Homo sapiens: one gene and its partners. The protein of the gene in region 4 interacts with the protein of the main gene of each other region in a biochemical or structural test. Each region holds a gene or a part of one and is shown on either strand. Other genes may lie near its edges.

The links.
Region 1: the proteins of SESN2 (region 4) and RNF186 form a complex in vitro, tested with the Homo sapiens proteins (one study listed by BioGRID).
Region 2: the proteins of SESN2 (region 4) and NPRL3 form a complex in vitro, tested with the Homo sapiens proteins (one study listed by BioGRID).
Region 3: the proteins of SESN2 (region 4) and WDR59 form a complex in vitro, tested with the Homo sapiens proteins (one study listed by BioGRID).

What each region holds. Positions count from the first base shown.
Region 1 is NC_000001.11:19,813,529-19,819,829, forward strand, and holds RNF186 (E3 ubiquitin-protein ligase RNF186), read right to left. Parts: upstream 1,756-6,301; 5' UTR 1,574-1,755; coding exon 890-1,573; 3' UTR 501-889; downstream 1-500. UniProt on the Homo sapiens protein: E3 ubiquitin protein ligase that is part of an apoptotic signaling pathway activated by endoplasmic reticulum stress.
Region 2 is NC_000016.10:93,560-101,271, forward strand, and holds part of NPRL3 (GATOR1 complex protein NPRL3), read right to left. Parts: intron 6,951-7,712; coding exon 6,813-6,950; intron 4,743-6,812; coding exon 4,586-4,742; intron 1-4,585. UniProt on the Homo sapiens protein: As a component of the GATOR1 complex functions as an inhibitor of the amino acid-sensing branch of the mTORC1 pathway.
Region 3 is NC_000016.10:74,981,774-74,990,277, reverse strand, and holds the start of WDR59 (GATOR2 complex protein WDR59), read left to right. Parts: upstream 1-5,154; 5' UTR 5,155-5,260; coding exon 5,261-5,314; intron 5,315-8,504. UniProt on the Homo sapiens protein: As a component of the GATOR2 complex, functions as an activator of the amino acid-sensing branch of the mTORC1 signaling pathway. The GATOR2 complex indirectly activates mTORC1 through the inhibition of the GATOR1 subcomplex.
Region 4 is NC_000001.11:28,254,611-28,262,692, reverse strand, and holds the start of SESN2 (sestrin-2), read right to left. Parts: upstream 3,176-8,082; 5' UTR 2,846-3,175; coding exon 2,756-2,845; intron 1-2,755. UniProt on the Homo sapiens protein: Functions as an intracellular leucine sensor that negatively regulates the mTORC1 signaling pathway through the GATOR complex. In absence of leucine, binds the GATOR subcomplex GATOR2 and prevents mTORC1 signaling.

The DNA of each region.
Region 1 (6,301 bases), 8.4 Mb from region 4:
GCAATAACAAAGACGGTAACATCCATAAAGATCTAGTTCTACCGTGTGGGACTGTGCAATAGATGGGCAGCTGGCCCCACTGTATGTGGACTGCAGTCCTTGTAACCCCGAGATTTGCTGCTAAGTCAGGGCCTAGTGGCACGGAGTGGGGAACTCCTAGTGAGGATACTGGGAGCAATTCCCAAACCCTGCCCTCTCCACCCCTCCCCATCTCTGCCAGCTAAATGTGGGACTCCCCCTGCAGCTTCAGAAACACCATCCCTTCACACACATTTTGTCTCCCCAACCCTAGGGTCAACTCCATGGGAGACCTAAACAACCAGGACACTTGCCGAGGCTAGGCTGGGCATGAGATGCTCAGTGTTAGAGGAAGCGCAGTGGGACCTCCCCGTGGACTCCAAGCTCCCAGGAGGGAAAATGTGTAACAAAGGGAAATGTGAACCAACTGCTGCCCCAAACCCAAAAAAACAAAGGAAAACAAGAAAACAAAACCAGCTACATAAATTGCAAAAAGAATGGAATTCCAGTTCTATTCTACAATGGCATCAATACTGCAATACTTTCATCAAGTTATATAAAGAAAAACCAAGAACATTGGAATAAGAGGAACAGGAGCTTCCCCCATCTTGTCATGTTCAAGTAGTTTGTGTCTGCTCCCCTAGCCACCAACAGTTTTAGCTATGCTATCCCAAGGGCAAGTGCAAGCCTGTCATCCAAGCGTGTAATTCTTGACCCAGGCTGGCCATCTCGGTTGTGGCTTGCAAGTCCCGCTGGCATGTGATTTCCCAAAGGAGCCAGTCTTAGTCCGTAACCCCTTACCCTGTTCATTGTGGAAGTCCGGGGGCCCAAGGGCAGAAAGGGCTGCAGGGATAGCCTCATCAGAGGGCACTCAGGCAATGGAAGAGATGTGGCTGTGTTTCTGCTCTCTGCAGAAGAGAGTCCTGGAGGAGGGCCAGCAGCTGCCCCGGGTGCTGGGGAGACAGCAGAAGAGGGTGGACATCAGCAGGGCCAGGGCGATGATGAAGGTGAGCACCCATCGTAAGACACCCGGGTAGATGAAGGGCCCGATGAGGATAATGAGCAAGGCCAGCAGGAGTAGGTGCGCGGCCAGGCGCCGGGCTGCCACGTGGTTTGCACTTACTTCATCCTGTCCATCCTCTCCCACCAAGCTGGGGTGTCCTGCTGCCAAGTCAGCAGGATCCACCAGCCCCTGAGGACAGAGCGATACCTCTGTGCATGGCTGGGCCAGCTGCCCCACCACCGCCTCATGGTCGCGCAGGCTGCAGATGAGGCCCCCGGGGACGGCGGTGACCTTGCGGCACAGCGGGCAGGTGATGGACCAGGTGTTGTCCTGCACGCACAGCAGGAGCTTCAGGCAGATGGCGCAGAAGGCATGCTGGCAGGCCAGCAGCTTGGGCAACCGGGGACAGCTGTAGGGCTCCCGGCACACCAGACACTCCAGGTCACATTCTGTGGAGCCAGAATGACCCCCAGCAGGGGCCACAGCGGTGGTGGTTGTGGTGGCTCCTGCGGAGATGGGCTGGGACTGTTGCAGGGTCTTGGTGCAGGCCATTCTGGGCACAGGGACCGGTGGGACACTGTCGCTCAGCACCTGGGCATTGGCAGAGAGTGTCAGCTGGCGCCGCTGGGACTTGGATGGAATCTGCCCCTCCTTTTCACTCTGGCCAGGTGCCTGTTGACAACAGCTGTCTGACACTCCTCTCTCCCAGAGCTGCCCAGCTTGTTTCTTGGCTTACGTCGTCCCTTCAGTTATTATTATTTATTTTCTCAAAACCTAGGGTTAATCAGTAACTTGCGGGTCTGGAGACTTTGAATTGCCTGATAGGAGGGCAAAGTGGGCAAGGGTCTAGTGAATCAGGACTTTCCTGTTGGGGCCAGGTACCTGGTGGGTGCCCACAGAACTGTGGCTCAAGCTTTAGGAGGCAGCAGAATCCAACTCTCTCACCCCCACTTCCCAGGTCCCTGAACCTTTTATTAATTTTTTTTATTTAACTTTTTTTTTTTTTTTTGAGACGGAGTCTCGTTCTCTCAGGTTGGAGTGCAGTGGCCCGATCTTGGCTCACTGGCATCTACAAATCTGCACAATAAACAGACAGCCCTATGAGTCGGACATAGGTGGATTGGTGGACACTGCTTTCTCAGACACAAACTTTTGGATGTCAGGATGAGTGGAAAAAAGTTTGTTTGCACTTGGAGCACATTTACAGGCAGGTGGCCTTGGAAAGAGGAGGGGAGAGGTAAGAAAAGTGAGTGGAAGGAGGACAAAGCCCAACCCAACGCAGAAAAACAAAACCACATACAGCGCACAGGTGTTTGGCACCTGCTACTGTATTCATTTCCTTAGAGCCACAGCTGTTGTATTCACAGTTACGGGTGTATGAACTTCCCATCGGTGCCCTGCTGCACACTTCACATGCCTAATCACAGGTGTCCTGTTTTGTGCTAGGCATGCTGCGTATCCAGTAGTACTAAGAACAGCTGCCATTTATTTGGGCCTACTCTAAGCCAAGCCCTGTGCCCGGGGTCCCCAGCCCCCATTTCCCGGAACCCTGATACAGCCTTGTAGGGAAGGCTGGGAAACAAGGGCAGGGTGTGGTCAGGGTAGGCTGCTGGCTGCCTGCCAAGGGGCCTTCCATGGAGCAGGACCTTGTGGAATCTACCAGCGTCCAAGGTCTGGTTGAATCAATTTCATTGGTTCATTTGGACACAACTGGCCCCAGCCGGGTGGCGTAGGCTAAGAGGACTCATGTGAGACAGGCAGATATTAGTAACACAGCAGTTAGGAAAACGTGATTTCCTTACTTTGCCCTCAAGGGCAAATGGCGGGGTGGCATGTGCACTCCCTCAAACAAATGTTTCATTCAGGCCACTCTGAACTCAGAAGCCCGTGTGAAGGATCCTTTGGTGCTCATGTCACCTGCCAAGGGCCACACAGAGTCCTGTGCCTCTGATTCAGCTCTTTCCCTTACCCCAGTAGCTGGCACTGCAGGCCACCCTCTGTGTCCTGGAGTCACCAGCCCCAAAGGGGCTCCCTCCCTTGTGGGATCGGTAACTCCCACCTCCCCACTCCCCCTGGGCCCTCTATCTCTGAAATCCAATACTCTCACCATCCCATCCCATTTCTTCTCAACCTGTAGCTAGACCATCAGTTACCTCTGTGAAAGGAAAATAAATCGTGGGGCCCCAAAATCACTAAGCCACAAGGGAAAGTCAAGCTGGAAACTGCTTAGGGCCAGCCTGCCTCCCATTCTATTCAAAGTCACCTCTCTGCTCACTGAGACAAATGCATATCTGATTGCCTCCTTTGGAGATGCTAATCAGAAACTCAAAAGAATGTAACCATTCTTATCCACCTGTGACCTGGAAGCCCCTTCCCCACTTCAGGTCTTCCTGCCTTTGCTTCAAGTTGCTCCACCTTTTCAGATGGAACCAATGTTCATTTTACATATGTTGATTGATGTCTCATGTCCCTCTAAAACGTATAAAACCAAGCTGTGCTCTGTCCACCTTGGGCACATGTCATCAGGACCTCCTGAGGCTGTGTCACGGACATGTGTCCTCAACCTTGGCAAAATAAACTTTCTAAATTAACTGAGACCTGTCTCAGATACTAAGGTATAGATACACATCTATATCACGTTTTCCCCCAGATCAAGCTGAAGGTGGCCTTGGATCTAGGCATGTTTTTTCCCCCATGCCTAGCATTCTTTCCCCTTTTTTGGGTAACAGTTCTCTGTTTTCACTTTGGGCAACCACTGCTTCCCACCGTCATTCTGTGCTCACGGAGAGGGTGATGTCTGGCTCCAGCTCTCTGGAAGTGGGGCCCTGATACAATTCAGGACAGGCCAGTTAGCATGCTCTGCTCTGCTAGCTGCAGCCATTGGTTTGAGCGTAGGCATATAATCGAAGCCAAGCCAATGAGATTCAATTCTGAGACTTCTGTTGGAGCCCTTGAGAAGTTTCTCTTTGTGCTGGGTTTCTAAGTTAGAGGATGGAACCCTGGGGCTGCCAGGACCACAGTGTGCAGAGAACCTGCTCAAGAGTAAGGTCAGCACAAAAGAAAAATGAGAAAAGAATCAGACAAAGGCCTGATGATGTTATTTGAACACCTGAAGCAGGACACCTAGCATTGGATTTTTTCAAGGATATTAACCTATAAAATCTACCCTGATTTTTATTCTTAAGTCAGTTCAAATTGAACTTCTGTCCCTTGCAAGTGAAAGACCTCTATGTAACACAGCAATGGATGAAGAAAAGAAGCCTTTACTTGCTCTCTGACAAAGGGTCAGGCATTGATGAGACAACCAGACTTTGTACACGGACAAGAGTGACCGAATGCCTGTGTGTTACCATGCTAGAAGAGATTCTGTGTTTTCTCTGCTTGGACTTGCATTGCATAATGTTATTTTCTGTTTGTGAGACCCTAGGATGGATTAGGGATGAGAGGAGAAAAATGTGTTGAGCCACATTCATTTATAATAAGAATAGAAAATCAGGTGGGCCACACAGTGATGTTGGCTTGGCCAGTGTCCCTCTCACTTTTTTTTGAGATAGAGTCTCGCTCTGTCTTGCCCAGGCTGGAGTGCGACCTCTGCCTCCCGGGCTCAAGCGATTCTCTTGTCTCAGCCTCCTGAGTAGCTGGGACTACAGGCGTGTGCCACCACACCCGGCTAATATTGTATTTTTAGTGGAGATGGGCTTTCACTATGTTGGCCAGATCGGTCTCAAACTCCTGACCTCAGGTGATTCACCTGCCTCAGCCTCCCAAAATGCTAGGATTACAGGCATGAGCCGCTTCACCCAGCCGGCCAGTGCCTCTCTCTCTAGCCAGCTTAATGGGAAATCAAATTGTCAGAAGGTAGCTGAGTGAGGTTGAAATCAGACCAAGGGAAGTTATTTGGGGTTAGAGCCTAAAAAATAACCTTTTAACATCATTGGGCAACCACCGTTAAGAAAACATATTGGCTGGAACAACCCAAGTATTACAGAAATAAAGTAGAATGTGAAAGTTCATCTTACTGCAACCCCTGAGAAATGACCACTGTTAACAGAGCATTCCTTCCTGTTGTCCTCCTCCTACCATCTTGGCTTAGGAACAACTTTGTTTCTCAAAAGTGCCTTGCCTTAACTATCACCAGCACTGACTATAGCTGGAAATCTGGCTCCTGTCACTTTACCAGCTATGTGACCTTGGGCAAGAATTTTAACTTCACTGCAGTTCAGTTTTAAAATTTGATAAAATGGAGGCCGGGCACAGTGACTCAAGCCTGTAATCCCAGCACTTTGGGAAGCAGAGGTGGGTGGATCGCTTGAGCTCAGGAGTTCGAGACCGGCCTGGGCAATGAGGTGCAACCCTATCTCTACTAAAAATACAAAAAATAGCTGGGCCTGGTGGTGCATACCTGTAGCCCCAGCTACTTGGGAGGCCGAGGCAGGAGGATAGCTTGAGCCTGGGAGGTCGCAGTTGCGTGAGCCAAGATCGTGCCACTGCACTCCAGCCTGGGTGACAGAGTGACACTCTGTATTTAAAAAAAAGTAAATAAAATAAAATAAAACAAAATGGAGACGTTAACACTTGAGGAAATTATGGATTATTTAAGCCCTCCACCCCTGACTACAACCTGCTCACAGGAGGCTTAGTAATTTATGTACTTTGGGTTGTAACTGACCTAGGTGAAATTGATCTCTTCCAGGGACATGAGATAAGACACTTTGGTGACTGATTCGGCCAATGCTTCTTGAAGAGGAGTGAATATGGGCAGAGTCTGAGGTGGAGCCTGAAGCAGATCTACCCCAGGGGAATTCAAAAGTGTCTCCGGAGACTTAAAATGTTAAATTCATCTAGGTTTCACATTCTTCTCCATGTTCTATTTGTGCTTACTGCAACATTAGAATCCCGAAGCATGCACGAATCCTTCCAAATCTCCAAATAAAACATATTTGTTTGTTTTAATTGCTGTACAAATATGAACTCATTAATCTTGAGTAAAGCTTTTTTTTCTTTTTTCATTTGAAATGCAGTTTCTTCCATCTTATGGCTTCTCACAGCCCTGGGGTCATACGCACTCCATCGTGAGAAACACAGTCTCATGTTGGGGTGAAATTTCAAGCCTAGCTGCAGGCTGGGGAGCCGGAGCCAGTCCAGTTGAGGAAGATCATGTTGGAAATCACATGTGCAAGGAACCACACACCCATGTACCTTTGCAAAAACATGTCTGATCTGAATTTTAGGCCTCCCGTCAAGTCAGAAAGGAGTCAGGTGGCAGCACTGTTCTGAGAT
Region 2 (7,712 bases), on a different chromosome or scaffold from region 4:
AATGGTTTTTTTTTTTTTTTTTTTGGAGACAGTCTTGCTCTGTCGCCCAGGCTGGAGTGCAGTGGCACAATCTCAGCTCACTGCAACCTCTTGCCTCCCAGGTTCAAGCGATTCTCCTGCCTCAGCCTCCTGAGTAGCTGGGATTACAGGCACATGCCACCACGCCCAGCTAATTTTTGTATTTTTAGTAGAGACAGGGTTTCACCATGTTGGCCAGGATGGTCTCGATCTGACCTCGTGATCCACCCACCTTGGCCTTCCAAAGTGCTGGGATTACAGGCATGAGCCACCGCACCCGGCCACAATGGCCTTTTTGTCACTGCTCCCTGTGCTGTTTGGTGGCACTGTTTTCCCATCCTATGCTGTCTTGACTCCCACTGAAGAATGGTGGTCTCAGGCCACAAGCATGGGAATGTCTGGGGTGCTGGGAACACAGTGCTGGCCCAGCTGGGCAGGGGGCTTAGCTGGATGTCCTGGCAGGGGCACAGCCCTCTTATACCCCCTAAAACTCCAGCATGGCCTTGCCCGATGATGGGTGTGGAGTCACTCAGCATGCCACCCCTACATACCCAAAGGCCCCAGGTCTGCCCCATGTGCCCCGACTCCCACAGAGACCCCCCTCCCAGCTTTGCTCTTGTGGACCCTTGAACATCAGGAAACACAAACACAACCCAAACCCCTTCCAGAGGAAAGCTCAGGCCTGAGGTCTGAGAGCACAGCACCCCAGCACTTCACGAAAAGGTGTGTGAAATCCTAAGCTCTCGCACTTCTGCCTCTGCATCAGCCCAGGACACCACTCCACCCTCTTGGCGGGTAGGCCTCTGTGGAGGTGAGTCACCCCTGCCTGGACACCGTGCTGCCCTGCTGCTGAGGACACTTATACCTCAGCTCAGAAAACAGGGCCTCCAGACTGAGTGAGTGGCTCATGCCTGTAGTCCCAGCATTTTGGGAGGGCAAGGCAGGAGGATCGCCTGAACCTCGGAGTTCGAGACCAACCTGGGCAATATAGTGAGACCCTCATCTCTGCCAAAAATTTTTATTTAATTAGCCAGGCACTGCGGCACATGCCTGTAGTCCCAGCTACTTGGAGGCTGAGACAGGAGGATTGCTTGCACCTGGGAGGTGGGGGTTGCAGTGAGCCAAGATTGTGCGAGTAGTGCCCCCAATGGCTCCGCCAACCCCGACATGGCAGGTTTCAGCTCCATCACCGCCCTGTTCCCTCACCCCACGTGCCACTCGCATGTCTCTCTCAAAAAGACACCCCCACTTTCCCCCAGCTCTGCTCAGCATAGTGGTCTCCACCTCCTGCCTCTCCCTGCAGCAGCCTCTCCAAGATGCTGTCCATTCTGGAAATTGAAAATCCAAAATCAGTACTTAAGGGCAAGCATAAGGTGCCAGCAGGACCAGGCTCCCTCTGGAAGCTCCAGAAGAGAATTCGTCCTGCCTCTTCAACGGCCAGTGTCTCTTGGCTTGCGGTCACGTCACTCCACTCTGTCTCTGTGGCCACATCGCTGCCTCTTTTTATCAGATCTTCCTCTGCCTCCCTCTGATAAGGGCCTTAGAGATTACATTTAGAGCTCAACAGGATGATCTTCCCATCTCAAGATCTTCTACTTAGTAACATCTCCAAAGTCCCACATGAGTTCACATTCATAGATTTTGGGGATTAGGATGTGTATATCTGTGGGGGCCATTATTCAGCCAATCACAACGAATATACAGCACGATCCTAATTTTCATAATACAAAATAAAATGTTTGTGTGTGTATATATATATATATATATATATATACACACACACACACACACACACACACACACACACAATAAAATGTATATATACAGATAAAAAACCTGGAGGGATCTAGGTTACCTGTGGGATATGGGACTGTGGGAACTTTCTGTGTCTATAATTTGTGTAGTGTTTGAAGTCTTGTAACATACTAATTTTATCATGACACACCCAAAATTTACTTGTAGATTCTCTCTGGATTGATATAAACATGAAGAATTTTATTTTATTTTATTTTTTGAGACTGGGTCTTGCTCTGTTGCCCAGACTGCAGTGTGTAAAATCACAATTCACTGCAGCCTCGAACACCAGGGCTCAAGTGATCCTCCCACCTCAGCCTCCTGAGTAGCTGGGACCATGGGCACACACCACCATGCCCAGCTAATTATTTAATTTTCTGTAAAGACAGGGTCTTCCTATGTTGCCTAGGCTGGTCGTGACCTCCTGGGCTTAGGCAATCCTCCTGCCTCATCCTCCCAAAGTGCTGGGATTACAGGCATGAGCCACTGCACCCAGCCACATGAGGGACTTTAAACTATCTGGTGACATTCACACCTGAGGCAGGTGCTCCCCAGGGGGCTATCTCCGGAAACAGAGTGACCCACCAGGGCTGGGCCCCAGGGGCTTCCGCACCGCCACACCAGCAGCAACGCCCTGCTGACCTGCAGCAGGGACAGCAGGGAAGGGGTACAGACAGAAGAAAACAATGACAAACAGCCTTCCCTCTCCCCAGTCAAGGCCACGGCAGGGAAGTGAAGGGGACATCAAAAGGAGACCAAAGCTTTGTCCAAGGAGACTCTGAGAGCAAGGGTGAGAGGCACACTGTCCACACAAACTCCTGCCAGACAACCTCAGAAGAGGGCATCAAAGCTTTGTCCAAGGAGACTCTGACAGCAAGGATGAGAGGCACAGTGTCCAGCACAAACTCCTGCCAGACAGCCTCAGGAAAGCCAGGCCCAGCTCCTTTCAAAAGCTCAACACAGGACCAGTGAACAGCCACAGGCATTTACCATGTGGTCGGTGCTCATCAGGACACGGAGGGTCACTGCCTCCCTCACTCTGCAGGGTTGTATGGAGTGGTGAGTTCTTTTAAAATTCTCTGTCTCCTGAATGCTATGAAGGTGGGCAGGACATGGTGTTTACTGAGTCCTGTCCAGCCCATGAAGTCCAAAGGCACAGCTGGGCATGGTGGCTCATGCCTGTAATACCAGCCCTTTAGGAGGCCAAGGTGCGATGATCACTTGAGCCCAGGAGTATGAGGCCAGCCAGGGCAACATAGGGAAACCCCGTCTCTACCAAAAAAAAAAAAAAAAAAAAAATATTAGCCAGGCGCACACCTGTAGTCCCAGCTACTTGGGAGGATGCTTGAGCCTGGGTGGATCATGATGGCACCACCACATGCCAGCCTGGGAGACAGAGCAAGAACCTGTCTCAGAAAAGAAAAAAGAAATACAAGGGCACAATTTGGTAAGTGCTCTCACAGAGGATAGATAAAGGGTCCTGAGATACAGAGGCGGGAGACTTACTCTCAAAGACAGAATCCAAAAAGGCTGCTTTCGGGGAAAAGTGGCCTGAGAGTCAGGCCTTGTTGGACAAGTTCCCCTAACGTGCTAAGCAGAGACCTGTTTCACAGGCCAAAAGAGCATGGAAGCTCAGCCAGAGGGACCCAGGCGGGCCCACCTCACGCCTGTGTTCCTCGGCAGCCTCTGCTGCCCCCTGGTGGCCATGCTGTGCACACCGCCACCAGACGAGGGCGCCACCCACAGGCACCACCTGCTCCCACCCTCAGGCAGTATTTCAATGGTCCCGTGGCTCTGGGCCACGCCCACATGACTAGCAGCCACAGCTGATCCCATGGCCTGTTGGCCACCCCATCAGCAGCCCCTGCTTCTGATTTCTCCCCGTGCTTTTTTTTTTTTTGGAAACAGAGTCGCCCAGGCTGGAGTACAGTGGCACAATCTCAGCTAACTGCAACCTCTGCCTCCCAGGCTCAATTGATCCTCACACCTCATACCCCCAAGTAGCTGGGACTACAGGTGCACGCCACCACACCCAGCTATTTTTTTTTTTTTTTTTTTTGTATTTTTTGTAGAGACGGGGTTTTGCCATGTTGCTCAGGCTGGTCTCAAAGTCCTGGGCTAGGATGACAGGCATGAGCCACCGTGCCCAGCCTTGCCTGCGCTTTTCCTCCCACACTCCAACCAGATCCGCAGACGAGGCTGAGGGGCCCTCCATCTAATCAGAAAGGGCAGCCCTCTGCATGGACAGGCCCATAAGCATGTGGCTCAGCAAGGACGTGGCATCTTGTACAGAGTGCACAGGCCAACACATGTGCACACACAGGGGCGTAAGGCCACCAGGTTAGGTCTCTGTTCTGCACATGGGAGGGCCCCGCATCCAAGCTTCCTGCCCTTAGTTCCCGTATGTTGTTCATGCACCACTGTGAGACCCCCATGGCCCTGCCCGCTGCTGCCCTGCCCACCCCCTAGCTCTGGTGCCTCAACCTCCAGGACTGCAAGCACCCCAGTCCTTTCTCTCACAGACTCGCCTTACCTCTCTGAGACAGAAGAACAAGTCAGTCCCGTGGCTCACTCACAAAGCCAGCCCTGAACCCAGGTCTGACTCAGATGCCAAAACCTCCAGCCATCCCAGGGACTGGCCCCACCCCATGGTGGGCTGTGCCGCGGCTCTCAGCTGGACACAGCCCCTGTGGATGTACTGTGGCAGGCGGCCTGCCTTTCCTGATGCCCCAGCACCGCCACATGCCACCCATCTGGGCCTCCAGAGCTATACCTGCAGCAAGGCCAGGTCCGCATCTTGGGCTAGCTGCTGCAGGTTCTTCACAGCAGATGTGGTCTTGATCACCCGCACTAGGGCAGGGGAGCAGTCAATAGGAAGCTCACCCAGCAAGGACTTCTCATCACTGAGCAGCAGCAGGGCATGGTAGGGGCTGCAAAACAATCACCTGTCACGGAACACACGAAGTGCAGGAACCCTGCACCGGGTATGCACCAGGTCCTGCACCAGGTATGCACCGGGTATGCACCAGGTCCTGCACCAGGTATGCACCGGGTATGCACCAGGTATGCACCTGGGACTCAAACACACGGAACATACGAAGTGCAGGGAACCCTGCACCAGGTATGCACCAGGTCCTGCACGAGGTCCTGCACCGGGTGTGCATCAGGTATGCACCTGGGACACAAACAGGCAGCTGGAGCCTCCTGGCCCTTAACTGCGGAGAGAAGGGCCAAGAGCGGGATTTGAGAAAAGGGCAGTGGTCTGTTTGGAGGCCTTCACAAAATCTGCCAAGGACTGGCTCATGCCTATAATCCCGGCACTCTGGGAGGCCAAGGCAGGCAGGTCACGTGAGGTCAGGAGTTCGAGGCCAGCCTGGCCAACATGGTGAAACCCCATCTCTACTAAAAATAAAAAAATTATCCGGGTGTGGTTGCACCCACCTGGGGTCCCAGCTACTCGGCAGGCTGAGGCAGGAGAATCACTTGAGCCTGGGAGGCGGAGCTTGCAGTGAGCCGAGATTGCGCCATTGCACTCCAGCCTGGCGACAGAGTGAGACTCTGTCTCAAAAACAACAAAAACAAAACCTGCAAGGATTATGTCACCCTCGGAAAAAAACACGACAAAAGTGGGGAAGGCTCGAAGACTGGACTCTGTATCCCACCTCAGAGACGCCCAGCAAACATCTGTTGATTGAAGACATGAATGAATCTTTCCTAAGGAAATTGTCCCAAATATGGGAAAAGCAAAATCCTCCTCACAGACTAGGGACCAAAGTACATTAAAATATGCTTAGCTAGGATTGAAAGCAAAGAGCACGGACTGGGGAGGGTGGAACTAGGCAGCGCTTTGCTTTCTGTCATTTCCAAATTTTCAGCAATGTGCCCAGATATATTTTTATAATTAAAAAATGTTCAAGGTATTGGGGGACTTGGGAACAGGTGGTGCCAGAAGACTGGGCTCAGTTCTTTCCTTGCAGAAAATCAATTAAATTGCCAGGGCATGGTGGCTAACACCTGTAACCCAGCACTTTGGCAGGCCGAGGCGGGTGGATCACGAGGTCAGGAGTTCAAGACGAGCCTGGCCAACATGGTGAAACCCCATCTCTACTAAAAATACAAAAATTAGCCAGGTGTAGTGGTGTGCACCCATAATCCCAGCTACTCAGGGGGCTGAGGCAGGAGAATCGCTTGAACCCGGGAGACAGAGGCTTCACTGAGTGGAGACTGTGCCACTGCACTTGAGCCCCGAGCAAGACTACATCTCAAAAAAAAAAAAAAAAAAGTCAATTAAATTAAGAAAGTATATTTTGGGAGGCTGAGATGAGCGATGAGTGGATCACCTGAGGTCAGGAGTTCGAGACCAGTCTGGCCAACATGGTGAAACCCTGTCTCTACTAAAAGTACCAAAAAAATTAGCCAGGCATGGCAGTGGGCGCCTGTAATCCCAACTACTCGGGAGCCTGAGGCAGGAGAATCACTTGAACTTGGGAGGTGGACGTAGTGGTGAGCCGGGATCGCACTACTGAAATCCAGCCTGGGCGATAAGATCAAAACTCTGTCTCTCTCTCACACACACACACACCCCCGCAAAAAAAAAAAAAAAAAAGAAAAAGAAAAAAAAAAGAAAAAGAAAATAACTGAGATCCCATGAGTGCTGACTGAAATGCAAAAGACTGGGGTAGGGCAACACCATTAAGATGAAGTCCCTCCAGCCCTCCGGCCTCCCCAAGGACACTCAGCCCCACATCCAGGCTGCCCTGCCCAAGCCTAAGGTGGTGCCAGAAGGGCCCAGGAGAAACCTGGGATTGGTCATTTCTGGACACAACTGGATACAAAATTATGTGTTTTAACTTCTATAAACGGCAGAGCCCCACCTGCAAGCTTCCGCAGTGGGAAGAAGAAAAAGAGAAATTTTGGAACAAAGTAAGTGGTAAAATCTCAGGCAGAAGCTAAAGGGAAGGGCCCTGGCAGGGAGTGAGCACGTGGGGCTGGGCACTTACCGGATGGCTTTCAGGCTCCGTTCGATGGCCTCTGGGGGGATCAGACTGGAGGCCGCATAGTGGATCTTGTGGGGCAGGCAGAAGCTCACCTCCAGCCAGCTGTTGATGTGAAGCCGAACTACGCCCGACGTGCACAGGCTGCAGAGAGTGGGCGCTGTTACCCGTTCACATAAACTTTCTAACCATGCACACAGATCAGAAAACACCCTGCTCAATGGTGCTGATTCCCCTGCTGCTTAGGGGAAACTGCAGGTGGAGACCCGGGCAGGAGAGCATCTCTTAAGATCACATTATGTTTAAGAAAAGAAAATATGGGGGCCGGGCACGGTGGCTCATGCCTGTAATCCCAGCACTTTGGGAGGCCAAGGTGGGCGGATCACGAGGTCAGCAGTTCGAGACCAGCCTGGCTAATAACACGGTGAAACCCCGTCTCTACTAAAAATACAAAAATTAGCCAGGTGTGGTGGCGGGCGCCTGTAGTCCCAGCTACTCGGGAGGCTGAGGCAGGAGAATCACTTGAACCCAGGAGGTGGAGGTTGCAGTGAGCTAACATCACGCCACTGCACTCCAGCCTGGGCAACAAGGCAAGACTCTGTCTCAAAAAAAAAAAAAAAAAAAAGGAAGAAGAAGAAGAAAGAAAAAGAGAAACATATTTCTGGCTAGCCCTGGAATCTGTAGTCCAACCAGACTGCCAGGGCTTGAGAGAAGCCGTACCCTGTCCTGGGGACTCAGTGCACTAGAGGCACTCTAACTCAGGCCCCTGCCCGTCCAGACCCCTGGCAGACACCCAACACCCAGAGTACATCCTCCCTGTGAATGGGCCTGCCCTGCACACCTCATGAAGACCCGTCACAGGTGCACGTCCAGGCAGAACAGTGGCTGTCTCAGAGGGCGAGGAGG
Region 3 (8,504 bases), on a different chromosome or scaffold from region 4:
CTCTTGAGACTGTCCCCCAGGCCATGGTCACTCATATGGCACGCATATGGGCTCAGAATAAACCTCTTTAAATATTTTACAGAGCAGTAATTTGGGAGGCTAAGGTGAGTGGATCACTTGAGCTCAGTAGTTTGAGACCAGCCTGGGCAACACGGCCAAACCCCATCTCTATAAAAAATACAAAAATTAGCCAGGTGTGGTGGTATGCACCTGTGGTCCCAGCTACTTGAGAGGCTGAGGTGGGAGGATTGCTTAAGCCTGGGAAGTTGAGGCTGCAGTAAACCGAGATGGCACCATTGCCACTGCACTCCAGCCTGAGTCTGGAAATATAGTCTCCAAATACATACAAAAAGTCTCCAAAATACATACAAAAAGTTTGATTTTGATTTTGTTTGATTTTTTTGGTCAACATGGAAAGAACACTTACATGGGGATCTCAGGGGTGAATAGCAATGAAGAAGCAGCCAGAGAGCTCTGGATGTTGCTCCAGAGTCCCCACTCTTTCTCTCTCTCCTTCCTTCCTTCCTTTCTTTCTCTTCCTTCCTTCCTTTCTTCTTTTCTTTCCTTTCTTTTTTTTTTTTTTTTTTTTTTTTTCTGAGACGGAGTCTTGCTCCGTTGCCTGGGCTGGAGTGCAGTGACTTGATCTTGGCTCACTGCAACCTCTGCCTCCCGGGTTCAAGCGATTCTCCTGCCTCAGCCTCCGGAGTAGTTGGGATTACAGGGCACCTGCCCCCACACCTGGCTATTTTTGTATTTTTAGTAGAGATGGGGTTTCTCCATGTTGGCCAGGCTGGTCTCAAACTCCTGACCTCAGGTAATCCGCCCGCCTTGGCCTCCTAAAGTGTTGGGATTACAGGCGTGAGCCACTGCACCTGGCAGAGTCCCCACTACTTCATGACAGTGTCATGACATATGGGTGGGAGACTCCAAAGCAGGATCCGAGGAGGCAATTGGAAAGGTTCTCCTGCTCCCTCTCCCCAAAATTCTGCTGAACCTTTTTCCTACTTAAGAAAAAAAAAACATTGGGAGAACAGAGTGCACCAAGGACTTGAAAGCCAAAGTACTATCTTTGCCTATGAACCATGACAGGCAGATTTTGAGAACTAGATAAATATGAACTAAAGAGGTGGGAGTGGGGGAGGGTTGCAGAAATGCTCAGGCACGATGATCTTAGATCCCACTCATTTTGGTGGGAAGCAAATTAACAAGCTATGTACACAAAGACAGAGAGCTTTAGAAGAGCTATGTCTCTATTTGTATGTATGTCCAAAGTAAAACTCAAACGCCTAAGCAGGGCTTTCTTTTTTTTTTTTTGAGACAGATTCTCACTCTGTTGCCCAGGCTGGAGAGCAGTGACCCTATCTCCGCTCACTGCAAACTCCGTCTCCCGGGTTCAAGCGATTCTCCCGGCCTCAGCCTCCTGAGTAGCTGGGATTACAGGCGCCTGCCACCATGCCTGGCTAATTTTTTAATTTTTTAATTTTATGTATGTATGTATTTATTTTTTTTTGAGACGGAGTTTCTCTGTGTCGCCCAGGCTGGAGTGCAGTGGTGCCATCTCGGCTCACTGCAAGCTCCGCCTCCTGGGTTCACGCCATTCTCCTGCCTCAGCCTCCCTAGTAGCTGGGACTACAGGCGCCCGCCACCACGCCCGGCTAATTTTTTGTATTTTTAGTAGAGACGGGGTTTCACCATGTTAGCCAGGATGGTCTTGATCTCCTGACCTCGTGATCCGCCCTCCTTGGCCTCCCAAAGTGCTGGATTACAGGCGTGAGCCACCGCACCTGGCCTACGGTGGGTTTCTAAAGAAAAAGAAGGGGCAGTTCCTAAAGTCTTTACTAAGAATTTACCTCAAAATAACATAAGCTACTGATTGGCTATACGTTGTTCTTTGTATCACAAATTCGAGAAACATGAAGATAATGGATGAGGTAGCCAGTCAGGAATGAAATGACTTTAATTTTAATTTTTTTTTAGAGACAGGGTTTTGTTCTGTCACCCAGGCTGGAGCACAGTGGCGCGATCATAGCTTTTTGCAGCCTCAACCTCCCAGACTCAAGCAGTCCTCTCACCTCACCTTCCCATGTAGTTGGGACTACAGATGCATGCCACCACGCCTGGCTAATTTTAATTTTTTTTTTTTTAGAGATGGGGTCTTGCCATGTTGTCCAGGCTGGTCTCGAACTCCTGGACTTAAATGATTCTGTCAAATAACAGGTGTGAGCAAACACGTCCAGCCTTTGCTCACACTCTTAATGGTGAAGTGTTTTTTTTTTTTTCATAGTGTACTGTATCAATATCTTAACATTATACTGAAAAGCTCAGATGTCGGGCCGGATGCAGTGGCTCACGCCTGTAATCCCAGCACTTTGGGAGGCCGAGGTGGGCAGATCACGAGGTCAGGAGATCAAGACCATCCTGGCTAACACGGTAAAACCCCATCTCTACTAAAAATACAAAAAATTAGCCGGATGTGGCAGCGTGCGCCTGTAGTCCCAGCTACTTGGGAGCTGAGGCAGGAGAATGGCGTGAACCCGGGAGGCGGATCTTGCAGTGATCCACCCACCACTGCACTCCAGCCTGGGCGACAGAAGGAGACTCCGTCTCAAAACAAAACAAAACAAAACAAAACAAAACAAAACAAAGCTCAGATGTCATATTCTTCAAGATTTCAAGATGCCATTTCGGGTCGCCTATTTAGGCTTTTCTCTCCTGCCATATTGCTTGCAAATCTATTATAATATACAAGTCATTCTGCCAAGCACATTCCTGTTGTAGAGTAACCAGTTGTCCCAGTTTGCCTGGAACTTATGGGTTTCTTGGGATGCAAGACTTTTTGGTGATGCAGTGCTAGAATATGAAAAGGGATCAGGCATGGTGGCTCACACCTATGGTCCCAGCTAATCCAGAGGCTGAGGCCGGAGGATCACTTGCTTGAAGCCACTACTTTGAAACCACCCTGGGCAACACAACGAGACCATCTCTACAAAAAGTAAAAAAAAAAAAAAAAAAAAATAGCTGGGCATAGTAGCACATGCCTGTAGTCCCAGTTACTTGGGAGGCTGAGGCAGGAGGATTGCTTGGGCCCAGGAGTTGGAGGCTGTGGTGAGCTATGCTCACACCACTGCACTCCAGCCTCAGTGACAGAACGAGACCCTTTCTCCAAAAAAATAAAAATAAAACATGAAACGGTCCAGGCAACAAGTTAGTCACCGTAATCTGTCAACAAGTCTGTCTTCCCCCTTATAGCCAATACTCCAGGAGGGAAGAGACCACACTTTCTTACCTCTATTCATACAATGACTTGCACATACAAATAGTGATAATATTAACAACAACAATAACAGTTTATTTTATTTTATTTTTATTGATTTCCTGGCTTCTAGAACTGAATTAATAGTTTATAGTTGAGCTTTTCTACATCCCAGGCCCTGTGCTTAGTTCCTTACAACAATCCAATGAGGTAAGCCATTTTTCCCTTCTATAGGGAAACTGAAGCTAAACCAGTTAAATCAACATTTAAGAGTGTGGGACTGAAAAGGAAACTTAATCACCACCCACCATGTTAGTACAGTGGTTCTCAAACTTTTTGATCTTGGAATCCCTTTACACTGCTGTTAAAAATTACTGAAAATCCCAAAAAAACTTTTTTTTTTTTTTTGACAAGGTCTTGCTCTGTCGCCCAGGCTGGAGTACAGTAATGTGATCCTAGCTTACTGCAGCCTCCTTCTGGGCTCAAGCCATCCGTCCACGTCAGCCTCCCAAAGTGCTGGGATTACAGGCATGAGCCACTGCGTCCGGCCCCCAAAAACTTTTATATGTAGTATACAGAATTTAAAAAATATATTCATTATTTCATTTAAACATTAAGGCCCTTCACATGAATACATTTTAAAATGAAAAAGAACAATATTTTCAAAAAAAAAAAAAAACAACAAAAAATTCTGGCAAATCTGTTTTAATGTTTGGTTTATCAGAAAACAGCGGCCGGGCGCGGTGGCTCACGCCTGTAATCCCAGCACTTTGGGAGGCCGAGACGGGCAGATCACGAGGTCAGAAGATCGAGACCATCCTGGCTAAAACGGTGAAACCCCGTCTCTACTAAAAATACAAAAAAATTAGCCGGGCGTAGTGGCGGGCGCCTGTAGTCCCAGCTACTCCGGAGGCTGAGTCAAGAGAATGGCGTGAAGCCAGGAGGCGGATCTTGCAGTGAGCCGAGATCGCGCCACTGCACTCCAGCCTGGGCGACTGAGCAAGACTCTGTCTCAAAAAAAAAAAAAAAAAAAAAAAAAGAAAAGGAAAGAAAGCAGCTGGATTGCAGGAGGGGGTATAGCTCACAGGTAGAGCATTGGACTACAGATCAAGAAAACAGCTGGATTCTCACATTTAAGTCTACCTTCATTGTTACGGGAGGCGCTGCTGTATTGTATGAAACAATAAATTGCACATTCAGACTTTTAAATATCTCGATGGGATAGGCATCAGGAGAAGAGGTATCTTCGGTTTGCACGAGCTTTGATTTTTCTTTTTTCTTTTTTTTTCCGAGACGGAGTCTCGCTCTTGTCACCCAGGCTGGAGTATAATGGCGTGATCTCGGCTCACTGCAATCTCCGCCTCCCGGGTTCAAGCGATTCTCCTGCCCCAGCCTCCCAAGTAGCTGGGATTACAGGCGCCCGCCACCCGGCTAATTTTTGTATTTTTAGTAGAGACGGGGTTTCACTATGTTGTTTAGGCTGGTCTCGAACTCCTGACTTCGGCCTCCCAAAGCGCTAGGATTACAGGCGTGAGTCACCGCACCCGCCCCGAACGTTGATTTTGATTTGAGACTGGGTCTGGACGAATGCTGGGGACTCCAGCGAGGAGCTAGTCAGGACAACAGGCACCTCACCTCACCCAAACCCAAACCTGCGAGCCCTTCCCAGGTCACCCACGCTTGCTCGAGCTTGGACTACAACTCCCGGCAGAGCTCGCGGCAGGGGGTGTGCCCGCAATCGCGAGGAGCGTGGGTGACTCAAACCAAGTGACGGAAGTGAGCGAGGGCGTGCCTGTTTGTTGCAGGCGCGGTGTAGCAATTGGAGGACCCAGGAAGAAGGGGCGGAGCCTATGCTTGGGTCAACCAATGGCTTGAGCTCAGGAGCAACCAGGGCACGGGGCGTGTCGGGGCTGATTCTCTGGCTGTGTGGGGCGCACGGTCCCGGGATACTGGGGACGGCGGGGTGGGAGGGCGCCGTCCTGGGGCCGCGGCGGCCGGGCGGGGGAGATGGCGGCGCGATGGAGCAGCGAAAACGTGGTTGTAGAGTTCCGTGACTCCCAGGTGAGCTAGAGGCCGAGTGGAGCCCTCTGGGCATGCGTCCTCCCCGCTTCCCCTCCCCCACGCGGCTGCTTCCGTCCCGGGGGGCTACGGGGAGACCCTAGGCCCCGTACTGAGGAGGTGGGCGGGGCTTAGCCGACCTCTTAGGCCCCGTCGGGGGAGGGAAGACGACCATCGGGGGCAATCGGGGCGAGCATGGACGGAGTTTCGGGGCTCCCTACGCGGGTAGGGGAGTGGGGTCCGCCTTGTGACACTGAGGCAGAGACTGCGCATCGTGAGTGCTGAGGGGAGGCTTCCCACAATCAGGGTACGGAGCGAGGGCGTGACGGCTTCCCGAGGCCCTAGCCGCGTGTGGCGACTTAAGGCAAGTCGCGGGACTTTTCTAAGTCTCAGCTGCGTGGACGTAACCCTGTTGGGGTGAATTCGATGAAACACTGTTTGCAAAGTGCCTGTTGCAGCGTCTACGCGGTTAAGTGGTTCTTAATGCCATCATACTGGAAAATACCGTGTAGTGGATAGGAGTGACACTGCACGTGTTGCCCGAGTTCGAATCCCGCAGCCCCTACCCTGTCATCACTCCGTACACGTCAGTTTTCTCACCTGTAGAAGGGAGATGGTCGTACTTACAAGATTGGCTTAAAGATTTTATTTTTTAATTTTCTATTTAATTTAATTTAATTTATTTTTTTTGAGATGGAGAGTCACTCTGTTGCCCAGGCTGGAGTGCAGTGGTGCCATCTTGGCTCACTGCAACCTCCGCCTCCGGGATTCAAGCAATTCTCCTGCCTCAGCCTCCCAAGTAGCTGGGATTACAGGTGCGCACCACCACGCCCGGCTAATTTTTGTATTTTTAGTAGAGACGGGGTTTCACCTTGTTGGTCAGGCTGGTCTTGAACTCCTGACCTCAGGTGATCCACCCACCTCAGCCTCCCAAAGTGCTGGGATTACAGGCGTGGGCCACCGTGCCTGGCCTATTTTACTTCATTTGAGACAGGGTCTGGCTCTGTCACCCAGGCTTGAGTGCAGAGGCGTGAATCACCGCTCAGTTCAGCTTCGACCTCCTGGGCTCAAGCTATCCTCCCACCTCAGCCTCCCCAGTAGCTGAGACTACAGGCGCATGCCAACACGCCCGACTAAATTTTTCATTTTTTTTTGTAGAGACGGGGTCTCCCTATGTTGTCCAGGCTGGTATGGAACTCCTGGGCTCAAGCGAACCCCCTGCCTCAGCGTCCCAAAGTGTTGGGATTACAGGTGTGATTCACTGAGCACAGCCTCGAGTGAAGATTTTATGTGGTTGTATGTTGAGGATGTGTGGCACACACAGCATTGGGATTTGGATGCTGGATCCTACCCCAGAGCCCTTGTTTAGCTCATTGGACTACTTTACTCATAGTGGGTAGCTCTGAACCGGTCATATACATCCCCTCTTCCCCAGCACCTAGGACAGTGTCTTGGTGATTCTCTTCAATTTTAAATTTATTTACCTTTTTTTTTGAGACAGAGTCTCACTCTATGACCCAGACTGTAGTGTAGTGGCATGATCTTGGTTCACTGCAACCTCTGCCTCCCAGGTTCAAACGATTCTTGTGCCTCAGCCTCCCGAGTAGCTGGGATTACAGGCACGTGCCACCATGCCTGGCTAAGTTTTGTATTTTTTGTAGAGACGGGGTTTCGCTCTGTTGGCCAGGCTGGTCTTGAACTCCTGGCCTCAAGTGATCCATCTGCCTTGGCCTCCTAAAGTGCTGGGATTACAGGTGTGAGCCACTACACCTGGCCTATTATTTTTTGTAGAGACAGAGTCTCTTTGTGTTGCCCAGGCTGGTCTTGAACCCCTGGCCTCAGGCGATTCTCCCACTTTGGCCTCCCAAAATATTGGGATTACAGGTGTGAGCGACTGTGCCTGGCCATTCTTTTCATTTATTCAACTAATATTTATCAAATACCTTCTGTGTGCCACACTTTTATTCACTCATTTATTCAACAAGGATTTACTGAGCTCCCTTCAGGTATACACTATACCATGCACAGGTGATTCATACTGAGGGAGATCTGGATAAGTATGAATGGGTGATGTGGTTTCTTCTTTCCAAAACCCCATCCTGTCTTTTGCCGGAGAATGAGTGAGTGGAGGAGCTACCCACCATTTTGCTCTGTGGTGCCCTCTGATCAGTAGCCTCTACTGAGAATTTGAGCAGTAGCATTTGGATTAAGGACCCCCAAGTACTGTCAGCACAGAGTCTCCGTGAGACCTGCTCTCCCTAGGGAGGCGCCAGACTCCTTGGAAAAGGAACCATATTCCTGTTTTCTTTCTTGTTAATTGCTTTTACTGGCAACTAGGACAGAATAGAATCATGTATCATGCCTCTAAGCCTGCTAATTTGGAAGCTACTAATCTGCAAACCCTTTAATTTTCACAGAAACCCAGGTAGTCTCACCCCTGCCTGTTTATAGAGATGTAATTGAAGAGACCTGCAGAGAGGGTGCTGACACATATATTAGGATGCTATGAAGTCGTAGCAAATAATTAAACCTCAACAGCAGTTGTCACAGTAAGAGAACAAAGTAAATTGGGTAATTTTACTGCCTTGTGGGAGTTTCTGTTTTTTTGTTCTGATTTTCCTATTTACAAGGCTTCCTCTTTATGTGAATTAGCATGGTTTTGTGGGTGATTCTGGTGATGATTGGAAGGGGCAGGAACCCATTTTATTAACTATTTTGTTAATGTAGAAAGACAAAGTTAAAACTCTTCATAATGCCTTTATGAATAGGAGCAATAAACTTTTCAAAACACTCCACATCTTTTAAATAATAATTTTATTAAAAAATTTTTAATTAAAATATTTAAATTTCTTTCATTTTGCATTTTTTTTTTAAATAGGGATAGGAGTCTCTGTATCTTGCCCAGGTGGTCTTGAACTCCGAGGTTCAAGTGATTTTCCTGCTGCAGCTTCCCAAAGTGCTGGGATTACAGGCGTGAGCCACCGTGCCTGGCCTAAAAAATATACATATATGGCCAGGCGTGGTGGCTCACGCCTGTAATCCCACCACTTTGGGAGGCCGAGGTAGGCGGATCACCTGAGGTCAGGAGTTTGAGACCAGCCTGGCCAACATGGTGAAACCCTATCTCTACTAAAGATACAAAAATTAGCCGACCATAGTGGCATGCACCTGTAATCCCAGCTACTTGGGAGGC
Region 4 (8,082 bases):
CCTCCCAAAGTGCTTGGATTACAGGTGCGAGCCACCGCGCCCAGCCTGGTTTTTTTTTTTTTTTTTTTTTTGAGACAGACTCTTGCTCTGTCACCCAGGCTGGAGTGCAGTGGCATGATCACAGTTCACTGCAACCTCCGCCTCCCAGGCTCAAGCAATCCTCCCACCTCAGCCTTCGAAGTAGCTGGCGCACACCACCACGCCTGGCTAACTTTTGTATATTTTGTAGAGACAGGGTTTCAGGCTGGTTTTGAACTCCTGGGCTCAAGCAATCCATCTGCCTCGGCCTCCCAAAGTGTTAGTATTACAGGCATGAGCCACTGCATCTGGCCGAGAAAGTTATTCGGGAGCCCAATACTACCAGTACTAGAGTGAAGCCCTTGGAACTTTCTGAAGATACACACATCTGAAGGCAATGAGCTCCTGAAAGGGAGTGTGTGGTGAAGTGACAGGGAGTTAAGGGAGCTGCACGCCTGGGTCTTCTCTTGGACCTCGGGCACCTGACTCAAAGATCAGCACCCTGCTGTCTTCTAAGGATGCCACCACTCAAAGCAGAAACCGTCCGAAGGTCCTCTTTTCTCGAGAGAGGAATACACAGAAATCTCCCAGATAGGCCAGGTGCGGTGGCTCATGCCGGTAATCTCAGCACTTTGGGAGGCCAAGGCAGGTGGATCACCTGAGGTTAGGAGTTCAAGATCAGCCTGGCCAACATGCTGAAACTCTGTTTCTACTGAAAATACAAAAATTAGCTGGGCATGGTGGCGGGTGCCTGTAATCCCAACTACTAGGGAGGCTGAGGCAGGAGAATTGCTTGAACCTGGGAGATGGAGGTTGCAGTGAGCTGAGATCGTGCCACTGCACTCCAGCCTGGGCAACAGAGCAAGACTCCATCTCAAAAAAAAAAAAAAAAAAAGATAAGAAAAAGAAACCTCCCAGATAGCAGCAGTTTTCTCCACTGAGGAAACATGGCTTCTGTGTAAAGATCCCTCCCTCAAAGCCTTTTCTCCCTAGACCAGGCACTGACCCAGAGAGGGGTGTACAGTGTCTGATCTCAGGAACAGGCTCAGGCACCCCCTTGTGAGACACTCTGGAGAAAGCTGTGCGTGCCATGGCCACGTTCTGATAATAGCAAGCAAGTATCACGCAGTTACTATGTTCCAGTCACAGTGCTTCAGCTTTTGCTTGTATTCTGAGTTAATTCTCCCAACAATCCCTTAGAGATACTGTAAAATCCCCATGGGAAGAAACCACAGATCAGAGAAGTGATTACTGGCTAAGCCACACACTGCAAGTTAGCAGGAGGGCTGGGACATGAACCCAGCACTCTTGCTCTCTAGTGTTCAGGTGTTCTCAATAGTAACATTATTTCCATCTTTCCAAAGAAGTCACACAGCTGAGAAGCTGCAGGAGAAGAGCCATTCCTCCACATGGCGCTCCTAAATCACGGCAGAGAAGGGTAAGCAAGCTAACAAAAACCAGGGCACAAACTATACACCGACGGAGGTAGGATCCCCAGAAACCACGTTACTAAGAGAAAAGCAGGGATTTTCCTGGGGTCATAGCACTCCACCAAATCCCAGGTCCAGAATACAACTTCCACCACACTCTAGGCCTGTAAACTAAAGCAACTAGAAGCTCCTAGTGCCGTGCAATCTCCGAAATCATAAGGCCAAAGAACAAGATATTCAGTGGGGTTAATGAAGAAAGCCTCTTTCTGAGCCCATCGTGGGCCTCAATGTTCTTCCTGTAAAATGGGGCTATAGCGTAGCTTGTATTGCTGGTTTAGTCCTGAGGACTTAGGTTAAAGGCGAAAAAAACTCAGAGCCTGGTATCTAGTAGGTGCATAATAAATGATAAGATGTCCATTATCGCTGCTGCTGGTAGTGGTGGGGGAGTGCGAACTGTCAGTCTGGTTAGGTCCAGCCTAATTCCCGGTCTCCCTGCAAAGCCCCTGCGGGCTATGCCGGGATGCGAATGCGGGGGGGTGGAGGGGAGCGGCGCGAAGGGAGGGTGGGGGAGGAATTTCTGGAAAACAAACTTCTGGGCCTTCAGACCACTTACTTAGCAGGGCGCAGCCTAACCCGCGCTTGGCTTCGGAAGCCGCGACCAGGGTTGTCCCCTCTCCCCCCAGCTTTGGCTGCCGCCGCCGCGTACCGGGCGGCCCGCCAAGCCCCCAGAGCCCCTGCGCTCTCCCTCCAAAGCAGGAGTGCGGTGGACATAGGATGAGGTCGACTTTCACTGGCCAGTCCCAGGTGCCTACGCCCCGCGCTGGGGGACAGGAGCCGGGAGGCACCCCAGGAAGGGTCCTCTGCCCGCCGGCCCCCGCGAAGAGGAAGGGACTCCGCGGAAGGGGGCGGGGAGGAGGAGTGGTCTGGCCGCTCCGGCCGGGATTTGCCTGGACTTGAAGACGCTCAGGAGCCCAAAGCTCGGAGAGCCTCCAGAAGGCTTCTCCCTCATTGGCCAGGAGTCCGAGGGAGCCGAGGAAGGATCCGCGGCCCTGGGGTGGGGCGGTGAGGGAGAGGGGGAGAGGGAGGGAGGAGGGGGAGAGGGAGGGGGAGAAGGAGGGAGAGGGGAGACAGAGTGGGGGAGGGGTGCCGAGGGCCGCGGCTGCCAGTTGATGCAACCCGGGTCCCGGGTTACGCGCTCGGCTTTCCCTCCCCGAGCCCAGGACACACCGACTCAGCTCCGGACAGCCTGAGGCTCAGACGCGGTTCGGGGTTCCAGGGAAGAGGGGCGTCGCGCGGCCGCCGCTTACCTCTCCGGGGCCCGAGTCGCCGACGCCGCCCGGGGCGAACCGCAGGTAGTCCTTGAGCTCTGCGCGGCACTCGGAGTCCGCCACGATCATGGTGCGCGCCAGGACCCGGTCGCGGCTCGCCGACGACCCGTGCACCCGAGTGGGTTTCGGAGGGACGCCCGAATGAAGCCGGGACTGGGCGCCGCCGGGGAGCTTCTAGAACCCCGGGGCGTCTCTCGGGGCTCCAGAACGCTCCGGAATCCGAGAACGGCCGCTTTGGTGCTGGACTCTTCCCCCAGTCGGGCTTCGGGAACGGCGAACGGCCTCGGGGGCCTGGGAAGGGCCGCAGCGCAGGGGTTTTCACGGCCTCGGAAGTCCGCAGGGGCCAGGGCTGCTCCCGGACCCAGCGCTCCTCAGCATCCCCGCCGCGGAACTGCCAGCGCTCGCCGGGCTCTGACACCAGCAGTTCAGCCCGCTGCGGTCCCCGGGGGAGGGCGGGGACACAAAAGCCCGGCGGTCCAGCCAATCAGAGGTCTGTTTCCCCGGGGAGGCGGGGGAAACTCCGCCCCCTGGAGTCACGGGCTCCGCCAATCAGCACCGGGGAGCGCCCGGAATTCTGGGAGTTGTAGTCCGCCTCGGGTGAATGCTGCAAACTTTTGCAAGACGGTTTAGTCAGATCCCTGGCAACACCAGACGGCAGTGACAGCCCTAAGAGTCATTAGGGTTGCGTGATGAAAAGGGACTTCACTGGGCTAGGCCAAACAGCCGAGTGTGAAATCTCCTAAATGAATTCTTCATCTTTTCAGTTCCTGGAGGGACTGGCTAGGGTTAAGAGAGGTTTGGCTCGCGTCCTATCCGGTGCTGCTAATTATAGAACTGAACCCCAGATATTTAGAGGTCAGAGGGCACAACCCTGCTCCCCCTGGCCTCGGGGAAGCTCCAAAGATGCGAGACACAGGGAATTCACCTTATTTGTGGAGCCTCAGGAAAAGCCTTCATTCCTTGAAATGTCATTGGTAACTTCGTGTGGAACCTCAATCCCTATTGCTGGAAGTTTTCTTCCTTCTGCTACCCGTCCTGGCTTCCACCCCTCCCACCCTCCTCGAAACTTTGTAACAAGGTGTTCTGCTGGATCTTTGCTCACCTCTCCCTCTGGCCTTCTCTGACTCCTCTTTCACCACCCACTTCCTAAAACGTGGGTGCTTCCCCAGTTTGTTTTTGCCCCTCTTCCCTCCAGACACTCTCCCTGATCTCATTCACTTCCTGGCCTTCAACTCGCCTCTTGCCAGAAAGTTGCCTCTACCAACACCTCAGCACCTCCAAGCTAAATTCATTTTCTATTCATTTCAAACGGAGCCTCTTCCTTCACAGTTTTCCTTCAGAGCTCCTTTTTTTGTTTCCATTTTAAAGTTATTGTTTATTCTAGACAGGGAATCCTGCCAGGGGTGAGGGTGGATAAGACCCCCAAGTCCCCCTCTGAGACTTCTAAGTCTAAGCTTACAATTCCAAAGATGAAACCGACTTGGTTTCCTGCCTCCAGATTCTTGGGAAAAAGAGATTAATCTCACCCTCCCCTGAGCTCCCAAGGCACTTGAGCTGGATCTCTTTTCACATGTATCACATTCTACCTAGTTTTTTTTGTTTTTTGTTTTTTTGTTTTCTGTTTTTTTGTTTTTGTTTTTTGTTTTTTAGTAAATAGAGACAGGGTCTCAATATGTTGCCCAGGCTGGTCTCAAACTCCTGAGCTCAAGCGATTCTCTCACCTCAGCCTCCCAAAGTGCTAGGATTATAGGCATGAGCCACCATGTCCAGCCACATTCTGCCTTGTATTGTAATTTTCTATGTACATGTTTTATCTGACCCTTTTTTCTTTTTATTAGTATTGTTTTTTAGAGATGGGGTCTAGCTCTGTCACCCAGACTGGAGTACAGTGGCATGATCATAGCACGCTGCAGCTTCAAATTCCTGGGCTCAAGCGATATTCCCTCCTCAGCCCCCCAAATCAATCACTGGGGTTACAGGTGTGCACCACTGAGTCTGGCTTATCTGATCTTTTTAATTGTAAACTCCTTGAGGGCAGGGTCAACATCTTTTTTTTTTTTTTTTTTTTTTTTTTAAACAGAGTCGCACTCTGTCTCCCAGGCTGGAGTGCAGTGGCCCGATCTTGGCTCACTGCAACCTCTGCCTCCCAGGTTCAAGCAATTCTCCTGCCTCAGCCTCCTGAGTAGCTGGGATTACAGGCAAGTGCCACCACACCCGGCTAATTTTTGTATTTTTAGTGGAGACAGGGTTTCACCATGTTGATCAGGCTGGTCTCGAACTCCTGACCTTGTGCTCTGCCCGCCTCAGCCTCCCAAAGTGCTGGCATTATAGGCATGAGCCACCGCGCCTGGCTGGCAGGGTCTACATCTTGACATCCATCTCCTGCTCTATGTCACCTAGCAAAATGTCCTGACAATCATATGCCCTTGGTCACGGAATCTTCCTTTGCATCAACTTCCTCTCTAAACTACCCTGTGTCAGCTTCAGCTTTCATTTAAAAAATTTACTATGTGGCCAGGCGTGGTGGCTCACGCCTGTAATCCCAGCACTTTGGGAGGCCGAGGTGGGCGGATCACGAGGTCAGATCAAGACCATCCTGGCTAACATGGTGAAACCCCGTCTCTACTAAAAATACAAAAAATTAGCCAGGCGTGGTGGCGGGTGCCTGTAGTCCCAGCTACTTGGGAGGCTGAGGCAGGAGAATGGCGTGAACCCAGGAGGCAGAGCTTGCAGTGAGCCGAGATCGTGCCACTGCACTCTAGCCTGGGTGACAGAGTGAGATTCTGTCTCAAAAAAAAAAAAAAATTTACTATGTAATGTCAAAGTCCAGATCAAAAGGCTTCACTGGTATTTCATCAGCTACAGAATTAAGATCAAACTCCTTGGGTGGGCATGGTGGCTCACGCCTGTGATCCCAGCACTTTGGGAGGCAAAGGCAGGCAGATCACCTGAGGTCAGGAGTTCAAGATCATCCTGGCCAACATCGTGAAACCCCATCTCTACTAAATATACAAAAATTAGCCAAGCGTGGTGGTGCACGCCTGTAGTCCCAACTACTCGAAAAGCTGAGGCAGGAGAATCGCTTGAACCCGGGAGGCAGAGGTTGCAGTGAGCTGAGATCGTGCCACTGCACGATCTGGGTGTCAGAGCGAAACCCTGTCTCAAAAAAAAAAAAAAAAAAAATCAAACTCCTATCTTAACATTCAAGGTTTGCCAAGATGCACCTAATTTACCCTCCCATTCTTACCACCTGCAACATCCATGTTTCTTGTTTGGCCTTCAAATCTTTCTTTCAGTACTCTTCTTGCAAATCTCTACCCATTGAAATAGTATCCATCATTCAATGCCTTCATTCCTGTTTGTGGCCTGAAGCAAGACTTTAAATGACACCTCCTCCAAAAAGCTCAGCTGAAAGTAATCTCACCCAGTCCTCAACATCTTCAACACATTCTTTTTATCTCTTTCTACCACTGATCTCCAAACTTGGTGTATGCTTGATATCATGTGTATATATCTCACCACTTCCCTCCAACTGATGATAAAAATCTCTCATTGACCACGTGTACAAAGTGAGAAAACTTGAGCTCAGAAAGGTAAAATTGGCCAGGCTTGGTGGCTAACATCTGTAATCCCAGCATCTGGGGAGGCCAAAAGGGAGGATCCCTTGAGCCCAAGAGTTCGAGACCAGCCTGGTCAACATGGAGAAACCCTGTATTCACAAAAACTACAAAAATCAGCAGGGTGTGGTGGCATGTACCTATAATCTCATGTACTTGGGAGGCTGGCCAACATGGTAAAATCCCATCTCTACCAAAAACATAAAAATTAGCCGGGTGTGGTGCGAGAGCCTGTAATCCCAGCTACTCGGCAGGCTGAGGCAAGGGAATAGCTTGAACCTGGGAGATGGAGGTTGCAGATTGTGCCACTGAATCAAAAATAAAAATAAAAATAAAAACAAAAATTGCTTATCAGGGTCACACAGTATCTTCTTTTGACTGCACAAGGCTGTGTTAGAGCACTTTTTTTTTGTTTGTTTGTTTTTTGTGAGACGAAGTGTCCTTCTTGTTGCCCAGGTTGGAGTGCAATGGTGTGATTTCGGCTCACGGCAACCTCCGTCTCCTAGGTGCAAGCAATTCTCCTGCCTCTGCCTCCCGAGTAGCACCACCACGCCCGGCTAATTTTTTATTTTTAGTAGAGATGGGGTTTCTCCATGTTTGTTAGGCTGGTCTTGGACTCCCGACCTCAGGTGATCCACCAGCCTCAGCCTCCCAAAGTGCTGGGATTATAGGTGTGAGCCACGGTGCCCAGCCGGCTGTGCCAATTTCTTAAAATAAGACAATAATAAAGTTGGCCACAAGGATCCACTCTTCCTTCCATGAAAGATTTCTCTGTAGCATGTGATACTGTTTGGTAACATGTTACCTACAGCAGAACTTCTTTCAAAATTGGAGTCAATCTTCTCAAACCCTGCTGCTGCTTTGTCAACTAAGCTTATGTAATATTCTAAATCCTTTGTTGTCATTTCAACAATGATCATAGCATCTTCACAGGAGTAGATTCCATCTCAAGAAACCACTTTCTTTGCTCAGCCATAAGAAGCAACTCCTTAAAGAAACAAAAAAAGAAAAGTCAGCCTGGGCCAACATGGGGAAACCCCGTCTCTACTAAAAATACAAAAATTGGCCAGGCGCAGTGGCTCACGCCTGTAATCCCAGCTCTTTGGGAGGCTGAGGTGGATGGATCACGAGGACAGAAGTTCAAGACCAGCCTGGCCAAGATGGTGAAACCCCATCTCTACCTAAAATGCAAAAAATTAGCCAGGCATGGTGGTGGGTGCCTGTAATCCCAGCTACTTGGGAGGTTGAGGCAGGAGAATCGCTTGAACCCAAGAGGTGGACGTTGCAGTGAGCTGAGATTGCGCTACTGCACTCCAGCCTGGGAAACAAGAGCGAAACTCCATCTCAAACAAAACAAAACAAAACAAAAGAATAAAGAAAAAAAGAATAAAAAGAAGAAGCAACTCCTCATCCATTCGAGTTTTATCCTGAGATTGCAACAATTCAGTCACATATTCAGGCTTTATTTCTAATTCTACTTCTCTTGTTATTTCTTTTTTTCTTTTTGAAGACAGAGTCTTGCTCTGACGCCCAGGCTGGAGTGCAGTGGTGAGATCTCGGCTCACTGCAACCCCTGCCTCCCGGGTACAAGTGATTCTCCTGCCTTAGCCTCCCAAGTAGCTGGGATTACAGGGATGTGCCACCATGCCTGGCTAATTTTTATATTTTTAGTAGAGATGGGGTTTCGCT